2 separate regions of the Homo sapiens genome follow, and region 2 is linked to region 1. A link means that fine-mapping ties the variant in region 1 to the expression of a gene that starts in the linked region. Tissue or cell type: tibial nerve. Region 1 holds a variant in brackets; the other region holds the start of a gene. All regions are shown on one strand. Distances are from middle to middle.

Region 1 (7,172 bases):
AACACTGATTTTTACCTATAAGGAATTTTCTGTTTGGAGAGGAAAAGTTGAGTTTTATTCTGCTCCTTTCCTCCCACTCGCCTGACATAGAGGTCCCTAAGCCCTTTCTCCAAACCTGCATGGATGAGTTTCTTTTCTTGTTCAGGTGGTTCCTTATGTCACGACGATTTTTGGAGGCCTGCATGCAGGCAAGATGGTCATGCTGCAAGGAGTGGTCCCTCTAGATGCACACAGGTAAGGCGGGGGAGGTGGCCCAGGGGGTGCTGGAGCTCAGCCCTAGAGGCATCGAGCTGGAGGGCTCCTCCCTGCCACTGAGATCTCTGTGGGTCTCTGGTCAGAACCGCACTTTGAGAGCCTCACCTCCCAGTAGGTTTCAGGTGGACTTCCAGTGTGGCTGCAGCCTGTGTCCCCGGCCAGATATCGCCTTCCACTTCAACCCTCGCTTCCATACCACCAAGCCCCATGTCATCTGCAACACCCTGCATGGTGGACGCTGGCAAAGGGAGGCCCGGTGGCCCCACCTGGCCCTGCGAAGAGGCTCCAGCTTCCTCATCCTCTTTCTCTTCGGGAATGAGGAAGTGAAGGTGAAGGAAGGGACGGGCATTGGGTGGTCTAGAATTTGTGTCCTTGCGCCCTTCCTTCCCTCAGCCAGACTCCCCACGACACAATGTTGAGTGGCATTGGTAGTGGTCAGGTACCAAGAGGACCAAGGAGCTGCCATGCCCGGTTCCAGGCTGCCCTGGGCCCACATGGCAGCAAGAAAGCTCTACAGTGCCTGGCTCCAAAGAGGGCACTCCTGCCATAGTCATGGCAAGCACTTAGAGAGAACCTACTGTATACCAGGAACTGTTCTAAGCCCTTAAAAGTATCTGCTCATTGAATGCTCACAATAACCCCATTAGGTAGGTACCTTCATTATCCCCATCTTACAGCCACAGTGGCAGGGGAGAGGGACAGAGAACTTGATCTCAAGGTTTAGACCCCTAATGTGAGCTCCTGCCAGAAACATGATGGGATCTTCAGACATCTCCAGGAGACAGGGCAGCTGGCGGGAGGGTAGCCTCTTGAGCCTCAGTTTCCTCACGTAAATGGAGCAAAGATGACTCTTTGGGCTGCTGAGAAAGCACAATGAGGGGCCTCTGTTGGGGTAGAGGGAGCGTTGAAGGTGCCTTAGTCTCCAGGCCAGCTCTGCAACCTTTGGAAGATTACTTAAGCCGCCCAAGGCTCTGTAAAATGTACCTACCTCATAGAGATGACGTGAAGTTAAGTGAGGCAAAATTGAGGAAAAAGTGCTTGGCAATGCCTGGGACATTGTTATGAACTCAATGAACATTAGCTGCTGATAAGCCAGCCTCTGTCTGTCTCTCCAGGTGAGTGTGAATGGACAGCACTTTCTCCACTTCCGCTACCGGCTCCCACTGTCTCATGTGGACACGCTGGGTATATTTGGTGACATCCTGGTAGAGGCTGTTGGATTCCTGAACATCAATGTAAGTTTCCTTGGGACCAAGGCCTGGGCAGTGGCAGCCTCTAATTTCCCCTGACTCCTGGACGGGCCTGGGACCCCTTCCTCCACCCTAGACTGAGAGAGAGGACGCCCTGTGCACCAGTAATAGCCAAGGGGGAGGGAGTCCACTGAGGTTTCGGGTGTGAGTGGGCTGAGGGGGAAGAGAAAGTGATGGCAGAAAGGGTGTCCAGGAGCCGCAGGCAGGAGTCTGTAACCAGTGTGGGTCTGGTTAACACTGAGAAGCAATGGCCAGGAATGATTTGGCACACTGGGGGCCGAAACGGGTGGCAGCTGGCTTTATCATTCCCACCTGATGGGCTTATTAAAGCCCAGATTTCTGGGGCTTGCCACCAGAGATTCTGATTCAGTAAGTCCAAGGTGGGGCCTAGGAATTGGGATGTTCAAAATGCCAGCAAGAAGCTACCACTGACCAGCCGAATGGGAACATGAGGAGCTGTAAAGGCCAGGGCTCTGCCCACCTCCCAGGCATAGGTAGGGGATTGCAGTGGTCCTAAATGCTGCTGATTCTTTTCTCTCTTTCTGAACAGCCATTTGTGGAGGGCAGCAGAGAGTACCCAGCTGGACATGTGAGTTTCTTGGCAGCAAGGTCTGAGCAGCCACACCAGCTGACCCGCCCTTCTGGACTGCTGCTCCCATTACACAAGGCCCAGCTGCCCCTTCCCTCACTGCTGCGGTTGCCACGGACATGGCTGGCTCTGCTTCAGTCTCTGGAGGGCCTGGATTTTCCTCTCCCAGCCCCTCTCCAGGCCCAGCTTGGGAAGATGAATGGGGGTGGGCTGCATGCAGAGGGGGCAAGACCCCGTATTCCTAGCAGGAGAGGCCTTAGTTGAAATGCTCATTTCTCAAACCACCTCTGCAAGGTGGCTGGGGTTGGTCTTGCGGGACAGAAGGGGAGATGAGGCCCATGTACTGCCCAAGGCCACACAGGGAGTGGATGACAAATCCTCCACCCCGTTCTTCCCTATTATTCCAGCGCTGGTGAACCTCTGAAGTCCAGAGGATCCCACTGGGGCTCCAATGACTCACCTACTGCTGTGAGAGAGACAAGCCCCAAATATTCCCAATTTGTTAGAATAACAAGAGTTTCCCTTTTCCTGAGCAAATACCACATGGCCTTGTGTCCTCTCTTTCTTTCCCTGACAGCCTTTCCTGCTGATGAGCCCCAGGCTGGTGAGTGAACCTCCCTCCTGCTCTGTCAGGGCTGGGGGCGCAGCCTGGGTGAGCAGCTAATGAGCTCAGCCTGGTAGGACATGCCCCCAGCCTCAGGATTTCCCCTTCCTTTATAGAAAACTGCAGGCTGTGGGTGGGCCAGGCAGCTTATGCCCCCAGCCGCATGATTTCCCCTTCCTTTATAGCAAGCTGCAGGCTGTGGGTGGGCTGGGCAGCTTCAGGCTGAAGCTCCAGCTTCATTTTACCTTTTCTCCACTTATTGTGAACATCATTACTTGATACTTCTCTGTGCCAGGCCCGGTGCCAGGCTCTAGGATAGAGGAACAAGCTGGTCCCAGCCGTCCAGTTGCTCACAGGCTGGTGGGGGACAGACCACTAGATGGCAATTACAGTTAAGGATGCAGTGAAGGGAGAAGGACATGGTGGTCGGGACACAGAGAGGCCAAGCTCAGCCTGGACAGGCCGGGGAAAGTGTTCGGCAATAACAGAGTACAGGAGGCCAGGTGCTTAACAAATAAGCAGCGTGTCCTGGCGGCAGGCCTGGGCAGAACATGCCTGCCCCAGTGCTCCCCTGGCCCCCGGGGATGGGCG[G/T]TCCTCCCCAGTCCCCCTGGAAGTCAACTTCTCAATACCTCCCTTGTTCCTTCAGGAGGTGCCCTGCTCACATGCTCTTCCCCAGGGTCTCTCGCCTGGGCAGGTCATCATAGTACGGGGACTGGTCTTGCAAGAGCCGAAGCAGTAAGTATCCAGCATCTAAGTGGAGGGGAGGGAGCAGCCTCTCTGTGACAGTCACATGCTATAAAACATCATCTCTTTTAATCTCCTAGCACCACCATTTAATCCCCATTTTACAGATGAGGAAACAGAGGAGCAGAAAGGAGAAGTGGCCCAATTTGGCAGAGCTTATGAAGGTCAGGCTGGGACTGGGACCGACAGCCCCACTGCTGGGAGCATCATTCCTGCTGGTACATCTAGTCAGGCCTAGCCTCTTGTCCCAGGTCCTAGGAAAGGGGCCCCAGGAAAGGCCCTTCGTAGGTGCAGGCTGAGGCCCAGAGCAAACATGTAGCTTCCTATGGTAACACAATGTGTGGTTCAAAAGATACAGCCAGACTGCCCCAGAGAAGAGGGCTGGTATTTGGAAGCCAGGACTTGGAGGGACCCAGTGACTAAGTGGACATTACCAAACTTCTCCTACATGGTGCTTTCAAACCCAGACCTGTGGCTCCAATCCAGTTAGACAGGAGCCACTGGCCGGCCTGCCTTGAGGAAACGCATTAGAGTTTATGACTTCTCTGGGCCAGAATGCCTGGGTTGGCATGTGCTCAGGACACCTACTTGTGCAACCTTAGGACAGATACTTTTCCTCTCTGTGCCTCTGTTTTCCTCTCTGTAAGAAGGGGATGATAGGCCGGGCGCGGTGGCTCACACCTATAATCCCAGCACTTTGGGAGGCCGAGGCGGGTGGATCACGAGGTCAGGAGTTGGAGACCAGCCTGACCAACATGGTGAAATCCTGACTCTACTGAAAATAGAAAAATTAGCCGGGCATGGTGGCGCATGCCTGTAATCCCAGCTACTCAGGAGGCTGAGGCAGGAGAATCGCTTATACCCGGGAGGCAGAGGTTGCAGTGATCCGAGATCGCGCCACTGCACTCCAGCCTGGGCAATAGAGCAAGACTCCATCTCAAAAAAAAAAAAAAAAGATAGAGGGGGTTGATAATAATGCCGACTTTAGGGGTGGTACTTAGAATAGTGCCTGGTACATGGTAAGTGTCCACAAATGTGGGTACTACTGCAATCATCTCAGTGGAGGTAGGGGAGGGCAGAGTAAGGAAAGCACCCTATGTTCTCCTTGCTTAATTTTGTTTTTATTTTTAAGTCACTGACCTCACTAAACCCTTGCCCTGCACACTGCCGATCATGCCTGTGAATTCTGGGACAGGCATGAAGCCCAGCACTCGATGGCCTCGGCCTCCAAAGACAGGCATGACTGAGTTGGATTCCTGGTTTTGTCTCTTATAAACAGTGCGGTCGTGGGCCAGTCACTAAACCTCTCTGAGTCTGAGTTTCCCTACCGGAAAAAGGTGAATGATAATTCCAACCTGCTAGGGAAAATGAAAAGTGCTCAGTGATGGAACACTTCTTCCCACAAAACTTGGAGGCATGAGACCGGGTTCATATTGTAGCTCAAAGTCACAAGGTTACTAGTGACATAGTCAGCAAGTAACTGCTGTTTCCCAAGGGCCATGAATGCATGTGTCCTCAGAGGCCAGACAGGTCTCATAAATAGTGAGGAAACCAGTTGGGAAGGTGGTAAAGGGGAAGGAGTATCTCCATACACCCAGTCATGCCAGATCTTCTGACTATTTTTAAAGCAAAAATAGAAGCCATCTTTTATATAAACTCTCTCAATTTTTGAATATTATATTAAAGTTGAAGAATACTATGGACCAGACAAAACATTCCTATACACCAGTTCAGCCGAGATCCACCAACATGAAGATTTAGCACAGCACCTGGTATTTAGCGAGGCTGCAACCAATGCAGCTGCTGCTATTTTGTGAAAGCAACTGATGGCTTGAATGGGGCAGAGAGAGTAAGAGATGGAGGGCACAGGATTCATCTGCAGTGAAAATCTATCCCTCCTTCTTCACCTCATCCCTTCCCTCCTCGTTATTGAGTGGGAGTGTATGACTGCAGCCTCAAAGAGCTTCAACAGAGCTTCACTGGGCATCTGGTGATTTGTGATTATTCAGTGATCTAGTGGGCATCTAGTGATTCATGATTATCCAGTGATCTGGCGGGCTGAGCTGCATGAAGGTGAGGTAGGGAGACACTGAGGCCTCCTCACCAGGAGTTCGCAGGCCAGAGGAAGACACAGTGTTGTCTGGCAGGACGGGGTAGGGGGAGCCATAGTGGGGCTGGAGGCTCCACGCAGTCCACTCTCCAGGGTTCCTGCCTTCCAAGCTTCTTCCCAACATTGGGCCCTGGCCACCTCCTTCCCAAAGTTGGAAACTTACGGGGCCTCCTCCTGTAAGGATCTACCAATAGCCCTTGAAAGGCCTGTCCAGGGCGGCCTTTTCCCCTACCTTACCTGCCTCTGCATCCCATCAGGATGCCGCGCCTTCTCCAGCATAGCTCTTCAAGAAGGAAACTTGGGAAGTTCCCAAGACATAAAAATAATCTGGGCCGGGCGCGGTGGCTCAAGCCTGTAATCCCAGCACTTTGGGAGGCCAAGGTGGGCAGATCACAAGGTCAAGAGATCGAGACCACCCTGGCCAACATAGTGAAACCCCATCTCTACTAAAAATACAAAAATTAGCTGGGCGGTGCGGGCATGCGCCTGTAGTCCCAGCTACTCCGGAGGCTGAGGCAGGAGAACTGCTTGAACCTGGGAGGAAGAGGTTGCAGTGAGCCGAGATCGTGCCACTGCACTCCAGCTTGGTGACAGAGCAAGACTCTGTCTCAAAAAAATAAAATAAAATAAAGAAAAATAATATAATCCGGTTGCCCTATTTGAGAGGCAGGTGCCAGATCCCCCCACCCCCAAATCTAGAGTCATGAATCCTAGTTCACATCCTAACCTAAGGCCCTACCACTATTACTAGTAACAGAGAAGTCATTTAACTTCTTGTCCTCATCACTTAAATGGGCTGACAAACCTCACAGCACAGAATTTGTGAGGATTAAGGAAAGGCAAACTAGCTTCTGTAAAACACCTACTGTGTGCTAGGAATTGCTAGTTTTCACATACATTATCTCCTTTGTTCCTTTTTTTTTTTGGCTCTATGAGGTAGAGATTGTATTATATAGCAATATTTTTAAACAATAGGTATCATCTGAATGCTTATTACGTTCCAGGTGCTATTCTAAATAAGCATTTTTTTATGTATTCATTTAATTCTTACAACAATGCCACAGGCAGGTACAGGGCAGTTATGTTATCGTCACATTACAGATGAGGAAACTGAGGCACAGAGAGATTAAGAGTCTTGCCCAAGGTCACAGGACTAGAAAGTAGCAGAGCCAGGGTTGAATCGGGACTGCCTGACTCTAACCACTATGCTGTTTGGAAAACATTTAAGATAATACCTGGCACTTAGTTAGCATTCAATAAATGTTAGCTGTAGCTATCATCATCATAATCATCCCCATTTTCAGGAGGAGAAACTGAAGCTCAGGCTAGGCAATTTTCACACACTTCCCTCCCACCCCCATCCTCCTGTAGTCATAGATGGCAACCCTGGAGGTCAATCTCAAGTTCATCTAGAACTCGTGTTCTTTCCACTGTTCTGAGCATTCAGCCATGAGGCTGTCATAGGCCCTCAGTGCTTGTTTCTGGAGGCTGAAGCAGCTCAACCTTCCATCCACTCCCTGACCTCCATCCTTCCCCTGGGGGCTGAGCAGCGGCCTATGGGCAATGGGCGCTGATTCCTTCTCCTTCCTCCTGCTTCCTGCAGTTTTACTGTGAGCCTGA
Region 2 (7,016 bases), 21 kb before region 1:
CTACCACATGACCTAGCCATTTCATTCCTACATATTCACCCAAGAGGAAAAAATATACAGTCTGCACAAAGACTCGTACATAAATGTTCAAGCAGATTTGTGATAGTCAAAAACTAGTAACAACTCAAATGCTCAATCAACAGGTGAACACATAAACAAGAGTGGTATATCCATACAATGAAATACTGCTCAGTAATAAAAAGGAATGAACTGTTGATAAAAAGCAACAACATGGATGTCAGTCAAAATAGTTATATGGGCTGGCTGCAGTGGCTCATGCCTGTAATCCCAACACTTTGGGAAGCCGAGGCGGGAGGATCATGAGGTCGGGAGATCGAGACCATCCTGGCTAACACAGTGAAACCCCGTCTCTACCAAAAATACAAAAAATTAGCCGGGCATGGTGGCAGGTGCCTCTAGTCCCAGCTACTCGGGAGGCTGAGGCAGGAGAATGGCGTGAGCCCAAGAGGCAGAGCTTGCAGTGAGCCAAGATCACGCCACTGCACTCCAGCCTGGGCGACAGAGCGAGACTCCATCTCGAAAAAAATATATATAGTTATATGAAGGAGACAGACAAAGAAGTGCACATACAATATGATTTCATATAAATCTCTAAAAATGTGAACACATCTATGGTGACAAAAAGCATATCAGTTGTTGCCTGGGGATGGGAGTGGTATGGGAAGAGAGAGGGATTACAAAAGGCACAAAGAAACTTTTGTAAATGACAGAGATTATTCATTATCTTGATTGTGGTGAAGATTTGACAGGATATATATATAGATGTCAAAATGTATCAAACTATACACTTCACTGGCATATATATATGCCAAATTTATCAAATTGTATATTTTAGATATGTGGAGTTTACTATATGTCAATTACACCTCAATAAAACTGCTTTAAAACAAAGCATAACCAACATCCCAAATCAGGATATTTATTAGACCATCTAAACCAAGTTTGTCCAACCCGCAGCCCACAGGCCACATACAGCCCAGGACAGCTTTGAATGTGGCCCAACACAAATTTGTAAACTTTATTAAAACATTATGAGACTTTTTTGTGGGTTTTTTTTTTTTTTAAGCTCAACAGCTATCGTCAGTGTTAGTGTATTTTATGTGTGGCCCAAGACGTTTCTTCTTCCAGTGTGGCCCAGGGAAGCCTAAAGATTGGACACCCCTAGAAACAAAGTAAAATACAATATGTAGAGAAGTTGCCAGGAGGTTAAAGATAGTCACTTTGAGAATTCTTGTTACACCTACCTCAGCTGCTTGCTTTATTAACTTGCCTTCATTCTCAGGCTTTGGAATTGAACTCCAGTCTGCTTTCTGGCTGGGTGTGGTCTCCAAGCTAACTACAGCCTTCTCCCTAAATGATTTTGCAATCACAAAGTTAACAAATATCACTATTTCATAATTATTGGAAAATCTGTATTACAGATTTGTGATTTTTAAGATGGCTTTTGGTTTGGAGACTGTAGGGAACATTTCCCCCCGTTTGTTTCTGTGAACCCATTAGCTTTCATACAAAAGAATTGCTGTTTGCTGGTTTTCTGACAATTGTTCAAATGCTAATGATAGCAAGAAGCAGTTTTGGGGGTTTTTATTTTTTAATTTGCTAATAATGTCTTTTTAATGTTTATCAAAGTGATACTTGCACATGGTTTCCAGTACATAAGAATTTATAATGAAATGCAAGGAGCCTTCCTCCTTTCCCTTTTCATCCCAGCCCTACTGCCCAGAGGCAAACCCCTTGAACTCTTTCTTCCAATAATTAGCCCCAGATTTCTAAGAAAGCTTGATAAGCCACAACACTGCAACTGCAAGTAATATGAATGAAATCAGTATATTTCTCCCTTGAAACAAAATGTTACAGGAGAGGACAGAAATGAAAGGCAAGAATATGCTTTCAAGCATATTAAATTAAGGTAGTATAGTAGAGTAAAATACTTCGAAGCCAAAAGATCTAGGTTTGAATCCTAGCTTTCATGATTGCTGTCCCACCTTGAGCTAGTAAATTAATGTCTGACTCTCAGCTTGATTATCTTTAAAAATAGAGATGAAAATGTGTCTCACAGTGGTCAAGAAGGTGAAAGGACACAGCACATGTAAACATCTGGTATACCACCAACTCAGAAATGACTTTTTCTTTACCTTTTCCCATGCTTTAAACTCTTCTCCAGAAAAAAATAGTGTGTGGGGCAGAGGGGACACCCCTCATTTTCAGTAGAGCTCCTCTCCAAAATTTCAGCCCCTCGGAATTTTTTAAAGCAGCAATCATCATGTTGTTAATGAAAGTGAATTCAGGAAATCTGCCAAAGGCCGACTCATTGTTCACTGATTAGTGAGACCAAGGACAATACTGTAAGCCTCCTGCTAAAGCCATTCATTTCTCTGGGGTCTAGAGAATGGCCTTGTGGCTAGAAACAGCTGCAACGCATGCCTGTGGCCAGCAGGTCCCAAGCCCAGTACCATCTGTTATCACCCAGGATCACACCAGCCTTCCCCTTGCTGGGTACCGGCTGGCTGGTTCACACAAAAACCACCTCTGGGTTTGTTTTACAGAACTGCATTCCAAGTCAATTCTCCAAAAGATTTCTTCCACCCAAAGACCCCAACCTTACAATCTTCTTACCCTTGCTGGATGCTTCTGCCCTGTTCTAATGTGCCCGGCGGAGGCTGCTTGGCTGGGAGCTGGACCAACGCTGCGAATCCCACGGATTCTTCTAATTCAAGGGGGGAAATGCTATTTAGACCTGTGAAAGGAGAGTTCGAGCAAGCACCTTGACCGCTACGGAGAGTGGGCTCAGAGCTCTAGTCTAGCATCGTGCCTGGCCCCTGGTTAGGCCTCAGAAAATCTTGGGATGAATGGAGAGGGTTGTGGAACTAGGTGCTGGAGCGGGTTCAGTTCCTCTGCCAAAGAGAGACTTTGGGATTCCTGGGAACGGAATCGGGGAGAGGATGAAGAAGGGCGCCTCGCCTCTATCCTAAGCCCGATGGGAGGAACCTCTGCCGAGCCAGAGCCGGTCTTAACACCACCCTCCGGAGCTGCCACCACTGCCTCACTTCCATATGAGATATAGCGGGAAGGAGGGAGTGGCTGCCTGGCTCGCTTTGATTAGCTTTATAACAAGCGGTCGTTCTGAAATACTCGCTCATGATGGCTAACAGACAACACAATCGCCAAATGTCTTAAGAAAAGGAGCTTTGAGGGTAACCGCCCGCTGGGACCTGAAGGACAATTGCGGATTGTCCTTCAGCCGCATTCTTGGGGCTGACCTGAGTGGGGCACAGCTGAACGTCTGAGCGCAGGCGGCTGGTCCTTGGGCCCGGTACTGGCGGTTCGCGAGGCGGGTTTGGGGAGGGGTGGGGGAATCCTAGGGAGGCGGAGCGCGTACTCCCCCTCGGCGCCCGGGCTCAGGCCCATCCCGCCTCTGCGGCCTCGCCGGCCCCCAGGCCTTGCAGGGGACTACGCCCCTGGCGAGTTCCCAGTCGGCGCGGCCCCTGGTCGGCGGAGCCGCGGAAGCTTGGGCACTGGGGGCGGCTCGGGGAGGAACCGCGGAGGGGAAAGCGCCGCGGGCTGCAAACGGCAGAGGCGCGCGGGGTGGCGACAGTGGCGCGGGCGCAGTGAGCGCGTCCGAGAACAGAATGGGACGAAACGGGGCGCTTAGAGGCCCGGGAATCTGTGGGTCTTTTAGGCGGAGAGGGGCGAAGGAGGTTATTCGTTTTGGGGAAGGTCATGGAAACAGCAAAGGCTCAGAGGTGGTGCCTAAAGTGGCTGGAGAAGCTGAACGGTTTGGAACAGAGGCGTGACTTGGAGGGGTAAATGGAGACCAGATTAGGAAGCCTTGGGAGGCACAATCAGGGGTTAAAATCTTGAACAATTCAGAGTTGTTTTATTTTTAAAAATATATAGAAAATGAAATCTACACTTACGTAATAGATAACTTATGAAAAAGTACATGGAATACACATGTTGCAGTCTTGCCAATGTACCTTAATGTAGCAGTTTCTCCTTGTCTGGACTGATACCCGGGATTCTTTGTCCTACTCCAAGAAAATTAAGGAACGGGACATAAGGTGAGGTGGGAGCGAAAGTTTAATAAGCGAAAGAAGAAAGCTCTCCACAGTGAGCTGAGTATGCAAGTGGATTGCCCTGTTACAGCTGAATTCAAAAGCTTTTGCAAGAAAATCTCTTATCTCTGTAGTAGTTTGAGTAACTTCTCTTATCAGTAAAGCTGTCTTACGCAGCTGTGGTTATGTATCTATGCAAGCACAAAGCACCGCCTTTTTTGTTTGCATAACTGTGGGTTTGTTTTAGGTAAGCCCCCCTCCTCCCTGTGAAAGTTCCCACCATGTATATGCCTGAAAAGGGGAGAAAACTTTCCTGGGAGCTCCCTAATTATACAAAGAACAAAAGGCTTCTGTGCTGGACCCTGTCTGCTTATCTGTGTGCAGGTGGAGCCTGAGTTTTTTACCAGGTTGTTTTATTTTTGCCTGTTGCTGTGACTTTTCAGGCAGGCCGCTTCTGCATTGAGTCTTCCCCAACTGATTTTCTCTTTCCTTCTCTCTCGCACACAGTTAGGAAACATAATGTAATTACTACCCATGACAAAACCATCCTACGTAAGAAATGGAACATTCCTAGTACAGATGCTCCCCACCTATGGATTCCTTCCTTATCCCTTCTCCCTCTGCACGCCCAACGTCTATCCTGACCTTTGTGTCTGTCATACCCTCACTTTTTAAAATAGTTTTTTAAATCGCTTCTTTGTATCCCTAATACATCACTTTGTTTTGCTTCTCTGAAACTTTATAAAAATGGTGCTATGGTCTGGGTGTTTGTGACTCCATAAAATTCATGTGCTAGAATTCTAACCCCCAAAGTGATGGTATCAGGAGATGGGCCCTTTGGTCATGAGTGGGATTCATAAGAGCCCTTATAAAGGAGGTCCTGCAGAGCTACCTAGCCACTTCCACCATGTGAGAACACAGCAGTTGCTGAGACCAGTCCCTCACAAGACAGGAATCTGCTGGTGCCTTGATCTTGGACTTCCCAGCCTCCAGAACTGTGAGAAATAAATTGTTGTTGTTTATAAGCCACCCAGCGTATGGTATTTTGTTATAGCAGCCCAAATGGACTAAGACAAATGGTATCATGCTGTTAAGTTCTCTTCTGCAATTTTCTTCTTTCAAAGTTGTTTCTATAATACATACACAGTGCTGTATAGTCCTGTAATTCATTTTCACTGCAGTAAAATATTCCACTATGTGGCTATACCACAATTTATTGACCTAGTGATAAAGCCACTTGGTGATTTGTTGGTTCTTTTTTTTTTTTTTTTTTTTTTCAATTTGGGGTTGGAAACAATTGAGAAGAACCCAATTTGTATCCTGGTGTATGCATGCAGACATCACACAAGATGTAATACCTAGGAGTATATACAAATATCCAACTTTACAATAAAACACTAGAACTATTTCCCCAATTGGTGGTCCCAATTTCACTTCTACCAGCAATGGGTAAGATTTATTAATTTACATCCTCACCAACACTTAGTATTGTCACACTTCTTGATTTTTCCAGGTGAGTGAATGTAAAATAGTATTTCACCAGCGTTTTAATTTGCATTTCCCTGATCACTAATAAAGTTGAGACCTTTACATATATTTATCACATTCCCTCTTTTTAAAAGTGTCTGTTCATGTCCTTTGCCCATTTTTCTTTGGAGTTGTGTTCTTTTTGATTTGTAGAGCTCTTTGTATATTCTTGATACTCATCTTTAGTCAGTTATACTTGTTTACACACATTTTCTTGCAGTTCATGGCTTGTCTTTTCACTTTCTTCATGATGTCTTCTGACAAGTAGAATTCATGTCTTTTCTTTTGTGGTCAGCTCCCTATCTTTTCATGAAGTCTTTCTTGCCCTGAATTCAGAAAACATTCTCTTATATTTTCTTTTTTTTTTTTTTTTTTTTTTTTTTTGGAGATGGAGTCTTGCTCTGTCGCCCAGGCTGGAGTGCAGTGGTGCTATCTTGGCTCACTGCAAGCTCTGCCTCCCGGGTTCACGCCATTCTCCTGCCTCAGCCTCCTGAGTAGCTGGGACTACAGACGCCCACCACCATGGCCAGCTAATTTTCTTTTTTTTTTTTTTTTTTTTTTTGTATTTTTAGTAGAGACAGGGTTTCACCATGTTAACCAGGATGGTCTCGATCTCCTGACCTCATGATCTGCCTGCCTTGGCCTCCCAAGTACTGGGATTACAGGCGTGAGCCACCGTGCCTGGCCAGATAGTCTCCTATATTTTCTTGAAAATGTTTTTAAATTTTGCCTTTTTCGCTAATCCATTTGGAATTGATTTTTGTATATGTGGGAGGCAGGGATCCAACTTCATTTTTCCTCATATGAATAACTGTCTCAGCATCACTTGTTGATAGTTTCCACTTCTTCATAGATGAACAAGGCCACCTCTGTCCTGCATAATGCTTTGAAAGAGCAGGAATACTGTTGACTCTATTCAGTATCACTGATAAATGTATCTGTCTTTGTGCTACTATCATGTGGTTTTAATTGCTACATCTTTATGATAAATCTTGATGTACAAATATCTCAAGATCCCTCCTTACTTATTCTTCCTCAGGAACTTCTCAACCATGCTTGAGCTTTTGCCTTTCATTATAAATTGCAAAACTAGTTTGTCAAGTTGCTCAAAATACCCTATTGGCATTTTGCTTGGAATTACAGTAAATCAATAAATCAGCTTGGCAATTTTGGCATCTTTACAAAATTGTTTCTTTCAGTTAATAATGTATTCTATCTCTCTATTGTTAGGTTTTAAAACCTTTCAATGAATTCTTCTAATATTCTTCATAAATATCTAATCTTAGTATATTGCATTTTCCCTCTACTTATTTGGAAGTTTACACTGTATTCTTTTACTTATTGCCCTTGAAATTTTAACATGTATGCTTAAGTCTAAAATTAATATCCTAAACAATCCTCTGAAACAATGTA

The links. PIP is the estimated chance that this variant, and not a neighbour inherited with it, causes the effect.
Region 2: it holds the start of PLAAT5, and the variant in region 1 is fine-mapped to the expression of PLAAT5 in tibial nerve (GTEx, PIP 0.98).

Annotation. Positions count from the first base shown.
Region 1 is chr11:63,508,408-63,515,579 of GRCh38, forward strand. It overlaps LGALS12 (galectin 12), which reads left to right. Exons shown (of 9, transcript NM_033101.4): 2 at 146-234; 3 at 371-584; 4 at 1,371-1,490; 5 at 2,056-2,094; 6 at 2,672-2,698; 7 at 3,345-3,433; 8 at 7,156-7,172. Among named protein-coding and RNA genes, the nearest start is that of LGALS12, 5.9 kb to the left of the region's middle. RefSeq lists an enhancer at 1,826-2,457. The variant G/T (reference allele first, on the strand shown) is at 3,290.
Region 2 is chr11:63,487,606-63,494,621 of GRCh38, forward strand. It overlaps PLAAT5 (phospholipase A and acyltransferase 5), which reads right to left and starts at 3,562. Exons shown (of 6, transcript NM_001146729.2): 1 at 3,282-3,562; 2 at 2,638-2,728; 3 at 1,266-1,371. The coding sequence starts at 3,429.